Linked DNA regions of Homo sapiens: region 2 is linked to region 1. The links come from fine-mapping of genetic effects on gene expression. A gene starts in region 1. The other region holds a variant in brackets. All regions are shown on one strand. Distances are between the middles of the regions.

Region 1 (4,504 bases):
TCCTCAGGAGCAGCCTTTACCACCACCATGTCATCCTAATTCAGGTCAGTTCCCCCTGTTATAAGCAATAATGGCTCTGTGACTATTTCATAGCATCTGTCATAAGTGGAATTATTATATATATATATATATATATGGTGTATTTTCTTAACGTCTGTAACCCCTACTACTGGGTAAGCCCCAGAAGGACAAAAACCACATCTATTATTCCCAGTGCATAGCACAGAGCACTGCACATAGAAGATATTCCATACATATTTGTGGAATATAAACTAAGCTACGAATGCTAAGTATTTTGTGCTTTACAGATATTATTTCATTTAATCTTCATTATTACCCCAGTAAGTAGGGAAGATTAACGTAATTGTCGTAAGAAGGAAACTTATCTGTAAAACTCTTAACTACTAACACTGACTGCCTCTCCTTTGGGGCCTATATTTCACTCCTAAACAGAAAGACAAAGTTATCCTGCAATAAGATCAGGAAGCTCACTACCGCAGTTGCTGCTGTAGTATCCCTGGTACCATGAACATGAGTGAATACCTCCACTTCAGAATCTATATGAGGATGACAGGGACAATATAAGAAGTTCTTTTTTTTTTTTTTTTTTTTGAGATGGAGCTTCACTCTTGTCGCCCAGGCTGGAGTGCAATGGCGCAATCTCGGCTCACTGCAATTCCCAGGTTCAAGTGATTTTCCTGCCTCAGCCTCCCGAGTAGCTGGGATTACAGGCAAGTGCCACCAAGCCCAGCTACTTTTTTATATTTTTAGTAGAGACTAGGTTTCACCATGTTGGCCAGGCTGTTCTCGAACTCCTGACCTCAGGTGATCCACCTGCCTTGGCCTCCCAAAATGTTGGGATTACAGGCATGAGCCACGGCACCCGGCCAGAAGTTCTTGCTGGCAAAGTTACAAGGGCAAAAAAGTGACAAGAAGCTATGCAGAACACGTTGGGATATTTTTTAAAACAGGCAAAAAGAGAGTTATCTTTGTGCTCATTGGGGCAAAGTCTAACACAGCAGGATCAGCTCCTTAAAGTCAGTGTCCCAAGGCTACCCATTTTACCACTAGCCAAGGTTTAGTTCAGGCAGCTTAGACCCCAAGCCAGGGAGAGAACAAGGAACAACCCTGCAGTTAACCAAACTCACCAACACAGGAAGCTAGCTAAGGAATGAGGAAAGACTGTCCTGGGCTCAAAAGGTCCCAACTCTCATTCTCCAGGCTTCAGTCCTGTCCTGTTACTCTCAGGAATCTGGCACCTCCTGCGGAAAGCTTAGGAAAGCTTAGGGCATGCTAAGTGTGGCCACTGCCCCTCTGGGAAACCCCTCCAAGCTCAAGGCAGTCACTGCCTGTTCAGCTCTACAGAATCTGGAAAAGGCCCCAAGAGTCTGTGTGTAATTTCCTTCCAAGGCCCCAGCCCCCAGCAGCTGGGCCCCAGAGCTGACCAGGTGTGGCCTCCCCCTGTATTCTAGCCACAGGGCTGCTGTAGGGAAACCGTGAAAATACAGAATGGCTTCTTACCACTAAAGCTGAGTTCCCGCAGCTTTTCCAATGCAATTGAGGGCTCCTTCAGGACATCCTGGAAATCTGCAATTCTGGAAGGGGAGATAGGGCGGCAAATGAAGCATGCTGATATCGGCTCAGTGAGACCCACAGCCCTCAGCTCCCTCACACTGCCAGTTTCCAACCTGTGCCTCTCTCCCCTTTAGGACATAAAAATCACACAGCTTAGTCAAGGTCCTCACCAAAGACAGCTTTGGAGAACAACAAAACTATATTTCACTTCTTCCTCTACAACCAGAAACACAGAATGCCAGGGAAGAAACTTGAGAGATATTCTTGTCTAGAAGTTCCCAAATGAGGACCATAAAATTAGACATATTCCAACATTCTAATACTTAGTGAGCTGACATTTACTGGGCACTTCCTGCCGGCCAGGCCGGGTCCACGCACAGCCACCAACTGAACTCCTTGGACCTCAGGAACCAGGAGTAATTTGATATGCAGACAATGGACCATGCTCACAAATATAACCATTACAAGACCTCTGGGCCTGCCAGAAGGCAAGGACAAAGGGTTTAAAAAACACGTCCTGAAGGAAAACTGAAGAGTGAGCAAAATTCAGCCAATGCTGCAGGATCTGGCCTGGGGGAGGGGCCAGACTGGAGAATGCAAGTTCTCTAGCAATCCTAGTAAGAAAAAGGCACGGGGGACAGGGTGCACTTGGAGAGAGTACGGGAGCAGGGGGATCAAAAGGGGGAAAGGCACGGGGGCGGGGCATGGGGGTCTGGATGAGGAAGACTCAGGGGAAGGGGGACACCAGGGGTCCAGGATGAGGGAGGCAGAAGCAGTGACATCAGGGGCAGGAGAAGGGCCGCCCCTCCGTCGTTCCTGCAGCCCACAGGCAATGAGGTTAGAAGGTGGACGCTCGAGACCCTCTGCCGAGGGGGTCTGCCGATTCCTGGCCACACCCGCGCTTCCCCCTTCTGAGGGGCAGAAGGGGCAGCCTGGCCAGGAGTGGCCCAGCCGGGTCAGGCCCCATGGCCCCTTACCGGCTCTTGTGCAGACTTGACATGGTGTTGACTTCCGGACCCCCCAGCCGCCTCCGCCGCCTGCGCCTCTGCCGCCTGCGCTGCCGCCGCCGCCGCCGCCCCCCAGGGACGCGGGGCTCTGCGCAAAAGCCTCCGGCGGGAAACACAGCCACTAGCCTGCGCGTTCCACCGCCTCAGCCCCGCCCCGCCCCGCCAGTCACGTGCCACCCCTCGACTCTCACGCTTCCACACGGTACTGGCGGCTACGGCCGGCCGGGTTGAGCGGGGCAACCTCGGGTCTGGTGGGCGTGGCAATCGCGGGCCGGGAGCCCCAGCGCCGCCGACCCTGCGGGCCAAATTTGAGAACCCGCCGGTGACAGCGCAGACTGTGTGTCTCTGGACTATTCCTTGCGCTTCCCTGGGCCTCAGTGTCTACTTACGCAATATACCTGTCACCCTGTCGTCTTCCCTGCACTCACCCCCCTGTAATTAACTACTGCATGATTGTTACAGGAGTCTCGGCCTCCCCTGCTAAACTGTTCAGGCCCCCCAGCTTATCTTGGTCTCTGCAGAATCCTCAAGGCCTGTATAGCAGGGACTCGCATGAACCGCCGTGCGCGGCCCAACTTTTTTTTTTTTTATAAAAACTATACCAGCAAACCCTATAAAATGTAAGTTAGGAAGAAAGAAAAAAACACAAATGATATCTTAAGAAAAATAGGCTGGACCGGGCGCGGTGGCTCATCCCTGTAAATTCCAGTGCTTTGGGAGGACGAGGCAGGCAGACCACTTGAGGTCAGGAGTTGGAGACCACTCTGGCCAACACGGTGAAACCCCGTCTCTACCAAAAATGCAAAAATTAGCCGGGCGTGGTGGCAGGCGCCTGTAATCCCAGCTCCTCGAGATTACCTTCTTTACAAAAGATGTAAAAATTAGTTGAGTAGGCCGGGCGTGGTGGCTCACGCCTGTAATCCCAGCACTTTGGGAGGCTGAAGCGGGCAGATCACCAGGTCAGGAATTTGAGAACAGCCTAACCAACATGGTGAAACCTCGTCTCTACTAAAAATACAAAAATTAGCCGGGTGTGGTGACGCACAACTGTAATCCCAGCTACTCAGGAAGCTGAGGCAGGAGAATTGCTTGAACCCGGGAGGCGGAGCTTGCAGTGAGCCGAGATAGTGCCACCGCACTCCAATAGCGCCACCGCACTCCAACCTGGGCAAAAACGCAAGACCCTGTCAAAAAAAAAAAAAAAAGAAAAGAAAAGAAAAGAAACTGCTTAAAGATTTTCCGAAATGGTTGTATTATTTAACACCTTTTTCTTGAGAAAAAAAAAAAAAGAAAGAAACAGCTAGCCAGGCGCGGTGGCTCACGCCTGTAATCCCAGCACTTTGGGAGGCCAAGGAGGGCGGATCATGAGGTCAGGAGATCGAGACCATCCTGTCTAACACGGTGAAACCCCATCTCTACTAAAAAATACAAAGAAAAAAATTAGCCGGGCGTGGTGGTGGGTGCCTGTAGTCCCAGCTACTCGGGAGGCTGAGGCAGGAGAATGGCATGAACCTGGGAGGCAGAGCTTGCAGTGAGTGGAGATTGCACGACTGCACTCCAGCCTGGGCGAAAGAGCGACACTCTATCTCAAAAAAAAAAAAAGAAAAAGAAAAAGAAAAGAAAGTGCTTAAATATTTTCCAAAATGGTTGTATTATTTAACACCTACCCCAGCAGTATATGAGAGTTGCTGTTGTACCACGTCCTCACCAATACTTGATGTGGTCAGTCTTTTTAATCTTAGACATTCTAGTAGATGTGAAGTGGTATCTCCTGCTTTAACATGCATTTCCCTAAAGACATATGATGTTGAGCATCTCTTCACACGTTTGCTATGCATATATACTCTTCTTTCTTTTTTTTGAGACATGGTCTCACTCTGTCACCCCAGGCTGGAGTGCAGTGGCGCAATCTCAGTTCACTG
Region 2 (4,000 bases), 21 kb before region 1:
CCTGTTCTGAGGTCTCCAAAGTTTCAGCTCATCACAGCACCAATGCCCATTGCAAAGAACACATGATTTATTCAAGACAACTCGTCATCAACAGCACTGACTCAAGGAACAAAACAGATGAAAAAACTAAAGCAAACGTTCTGACCCTCTGGAGTGAGACCCGCTGAATTCATACAGCTCAATCTGTAAGTGTCCAAGATCCAGGGGGCAGGTTCTCAAGCAGGAAGCCTCAGGCACTCTGGCTCTGTGGGGACCTCCCTTGGGCATCTGCTTGAGAATCTGGGGAAGGGACATTATCAGGGCAGGTCCTTTCTGCAGGCGGTGTCCTGCTGGGAGCTCAGCCTAACCAAGGCCTGGTCCCTGTGCTCTTGACCTTCATCTCAAGGTCAAGGAGAGGGCACTTGACCCAACTCTGCCAGCGAGGCAAAGTAATGGTGATTCAAGTAGTGTGGTTCCAGGAGGGAAGGTAGGGGGCAGACAAGAGTGAGTGCACTAAAGAGTCCTGGGCAGTGTCTGCTGGGTCCCAGGCAGTGGCCCAAGCTTATGAAGGGGTTGGAGAAGGGGCTGAACCACCAGCTGACAAGTCCTGGAGAGAGGGTGGCCCAGGTGAGCAGGAAGCATCATGCCTCTGCCTCATCCTGGAGGTCCTGGAGTCAGCCCAGTTCTCTTCCCATCTTTACACTCAATTCCAGTACAGAACTCAGAGCCCGCTCAGCCAGGACCTGCTCGAAAACCAGGCAGTTCCTAGAAGCATGGGGAGAAGAGGCTGACTTTGATCTTGGAAAATGAAGAGGATCTTGTCTCCAACTCCTTTCTCCCTTCCTATACCCATGCCTCATCCCCAGAGCACTTGCCAATGTGCAATACATAGCCAGGAGTCTGAATAAATAGTCAAAGTCTCCCAAATACTGTGCTCTGGGAGAGGAGACAGGCAGGTGCGGAAATCCAGGCGGCATCAAAGGAAAAGCCTGGTAGAAGAGCCACCTGGGGAAGCCTTTCCTGGCCCAAAGCCGGGCTTGGAAGGGCAGCGAGAAGTCCTGCCCACCAGACTCGGAAAGCTTTGGGGGCAGGAGGGCTGCTGGGGCCTGACTCCTGCCAGCCAGTCTGGAGGACGAGGGTCCTCACTATGGCACCCGGCTTCCGGACGCAAACCTTGTACAAGGAGGGAGGTGACTTGGTGAGAACTGGGAGTGGCCAGCTGCCCCTGCTCAGGGTACACCTGCTCCAGCCCTGGGAACAGCTCAGGCAGGGGTCAGAGAAGGCCCTGCACCTCCCTCAGCCCGCAGCGGGTGGAGGGGTACACAGAGGCACAGACATGGCCCTCCTGGAACTGGCAGGACCCAGGGCCTTTAAGCTCAGCTACCCCTGGCCCCAGAGAGGCTTCCTCGGGCCCCACTTGCCCTTTGTGGGACTCACTCAACCCAACCCTGGGTTGGGACCTGGAAGCCGAGGGAATGACAACTCTTCTGAAGCAATGGGTTCCGACCCTGGGCTCAGAATCAAGGTCCTTTTCTTTTCGGACAGGAGGGCCTCTGGGGGAACCTCCAGAAAAACCAGCTCCCCCTCTTCCTTCTCCCTCCCTGGGCAGAAAGCAGGGGCAGGAGGCTCAAAGCTTCATCCTTACTCAGCAGCATTTGGTTTCCAAGATTTCTGTGTAGGGAACGGGTTCAGAACCCTCTAAGTGAGGCACGGAGGACTCCCTCCCAGTTGGGAGGACCTAGGAGCCAGGGCTGGGGGATGGGAACAGGAGGCAAAGGCCAAGCTTGACCTCCAGGGGCCTTGCTGAGCCAGTCTCCTCATCTGTCTCCCAGGTTCAGGGGAGCAGAGGCAAGCGGGGAGAGGAGGTGGCTCAGGATAAGGCACCCCAACAGAGAAGGGCAGGGAGAGTAATGGAGAGAGGAATCATGAAGCAAGACACAGTCCCACTCTGGGAAGGAGGTGGAAGGAGACAGGCAGAGAGGTAGAGACAGAGAAGGAGGGGCTGGGAGACCTGGAGGCCTGAGAGACCCTCACTCCCTAACACACACACACACACACACACACACACACACACACACACACACACACGGAGAAGATGCCTGGGGACTTGGGCCCACATTCACACCGACCGACTACAGACATCTGTGGGTGAGACAGACGGCAGGACTCAGCTTTCAGTGTCGCCTTCCCTGTGGAGCAGCCGAAGTGCCCCGCTCAGAAGCGGTTTCTGGCCCATTGGCCAAGCACCTCCCCTGAGTGGAGCCCAGGAGAAGACCAGAAGCAGGAACTGAGGCTGGGGCGGCAGAGCCGAGGCAGGGAGGGGCCCCTGCCAGCCTCCCAGTGCCAGAAACGGCCCTGGCCCAGGAAGGACAACTTCCCGAGCTCCAGCCCTCCTCAGTATCCTGGGCAAAGAGGGCAGAGTGCAGGGCAGGTGGGGAGCTGGGCGTGGCGGCAGAAG[G/AAGG]AGCACGGCACAGTGTGTCCCCAGTGGGCATGGCCTGGGTCTCGGGCCGATCCTGTGGCTTCCCCTCAGGCTGGGTTCCTACAGGTTTCTATGTGTCCCGGGAGCCAGGGCACAGGGTCGGGAGGCTTCTCTCCGGAACATGGGCCTCTTGCCGCCGGGCTACTTTGAGTCTTGGAGCTCCTTGGCTTTCTGCAGGATCTGGCAGACATCTGTGATGGGGTAGTCCTGGGCACAGGAAAAGGCCAACAGTTGCCTCTGAAGCCACTTCACCCCTGCCACACCCACACCCTCCCTGCTGGGACCCGTTGCCATGCTGGATCCTGGGCCTCAGGGGCAGGAGCACAGAACACCAGGCATCCCACACTCCCCAACCCCCAGACCCCTGCATGCAGCTGACGCTACACCATGCAGCACCAACTCAACGATCCAAACACAACCACTCCCAGGCTCTTGCGGCCCTTTCCTCAGGACCAGACCGTGCTGCCTCAGCTCTCCCACTACTGCCACTGAACCCGAGCTCCCTCGTGTGGAGCCAGTAGGACTGGGCCAGTGTCTGAGCATCAGCGCGAAGTCCCAACAGCCCTGTGAGTGGCCACTGTGATTCTGCACTTTTTCCAGATCTGGTCCATGAAGTTAGGGAAAAGCAACTCTAGGCTGGGCTTGGTGGCTCACACCTGTAATCTCAGCACTTTGGGAGGCTGAGGTGGGCGGATCACCTGAGGTCAGGAGTTCGAGACCAGCCTGACCAAGATGGTGAAACCCTGTCTCTACTAAAGGTACAAAAATTAGCCAGACGTGGTGGCACACACCTGTAATCCCAGCTACTCGGGAGGCTAAGGCAGGAGAATCACTTGAACCTGGGAGGTGGAGGTTGCAGTGAACCGAGATTGCACCACTGCACTCCAGCCTGGACAACAGAGCGAGACTCTGTCTCAAAAAAAAAAAAACAACAACAAAGCAACACTAAGGCCACGTGCTGGTGAAGAAGCTGAGACCCAGAGATGCTGTAACTTGGCTTGGGTCACATGATGAGCACAGCAGAGCAAAACTGTGGACCTAAAGCTGTAGGCCCTTGAGCCCATGTTCTTTTTTTCTGAGACAGAGTCTTGCTCTGTCCCCCAGGCTGGAGTGCAGTGATGCGATCTTGGCTCACTGCAACCTCCACCTCCCAAGTTAAAGTGATTCTCCTACCTCAGCCTCCCAAGCAGCTGGGAATTACAGGTGCATGCCACCAAGCCCGGCTAATTTTTGTATTTTTAGTAGAGACGGGGTTTCGCCATGTTGGCCAGGCTGGTCTTGAACTCCAGACCTCAGGTGGTCCACCCACCCCAGCCTCCCAAAGTGCTGGGATTATAGGCATGAGCCACCGCGCCCGGTGAGCCCATGTTCTTAATCACTACACCCCACCCTCCTTCCCCGGGCCTGAGCATGGCCACCAGCAAGCACGGCCATGTTCTGGGCACCTGCTGTGTCCTAGGTGTGAACACCTACGTAGAGTACACGGTTTGAAGGCCAAGTCACTTGCTCAAGGCCACCCAACATTCCAGGTCAGTGGCAGAACCA

What was found. PIP is the estimated chance that this variant, and not a neighbour inherited with it, causes the effect.
Region 2: its variant is fine-mapped to the expression of TBC1D13 in aorta (GTEx, PIP above 0.99).

Annotation. Positions count from the first base shown.
Region 1 is chr9:128,785,425-128,789,928 of GRCh38, reverse strand. TBC1D13 (TBC1 domain family member 13) reads right to left here and starts at 2,676. Exons shown (of 12, transcript NM_018201.5): 1 at 2,553-2,676; 2 at 1,522-1,595. The coding sequence starts at 2,575. RefSeq lists a silencer at 2,539-3,028.
Region 2 is chr9:128,806,476-128,810,475 of GRCh38, reverse strand. It overlaps TBC1D13 (TBC1 domain family member 13), which reads right to left. Exons shown (of 12, transcript NM_018201.5): 12 at 46-2,662. The coding sequence ends at 2,597. Among named protein-coding and RNA genes, the nearest start is that of ENDOG, 10 kb to the left of the region's middle. The variant G/AAGG (reference allele first, on the strand shown) is at 2,438.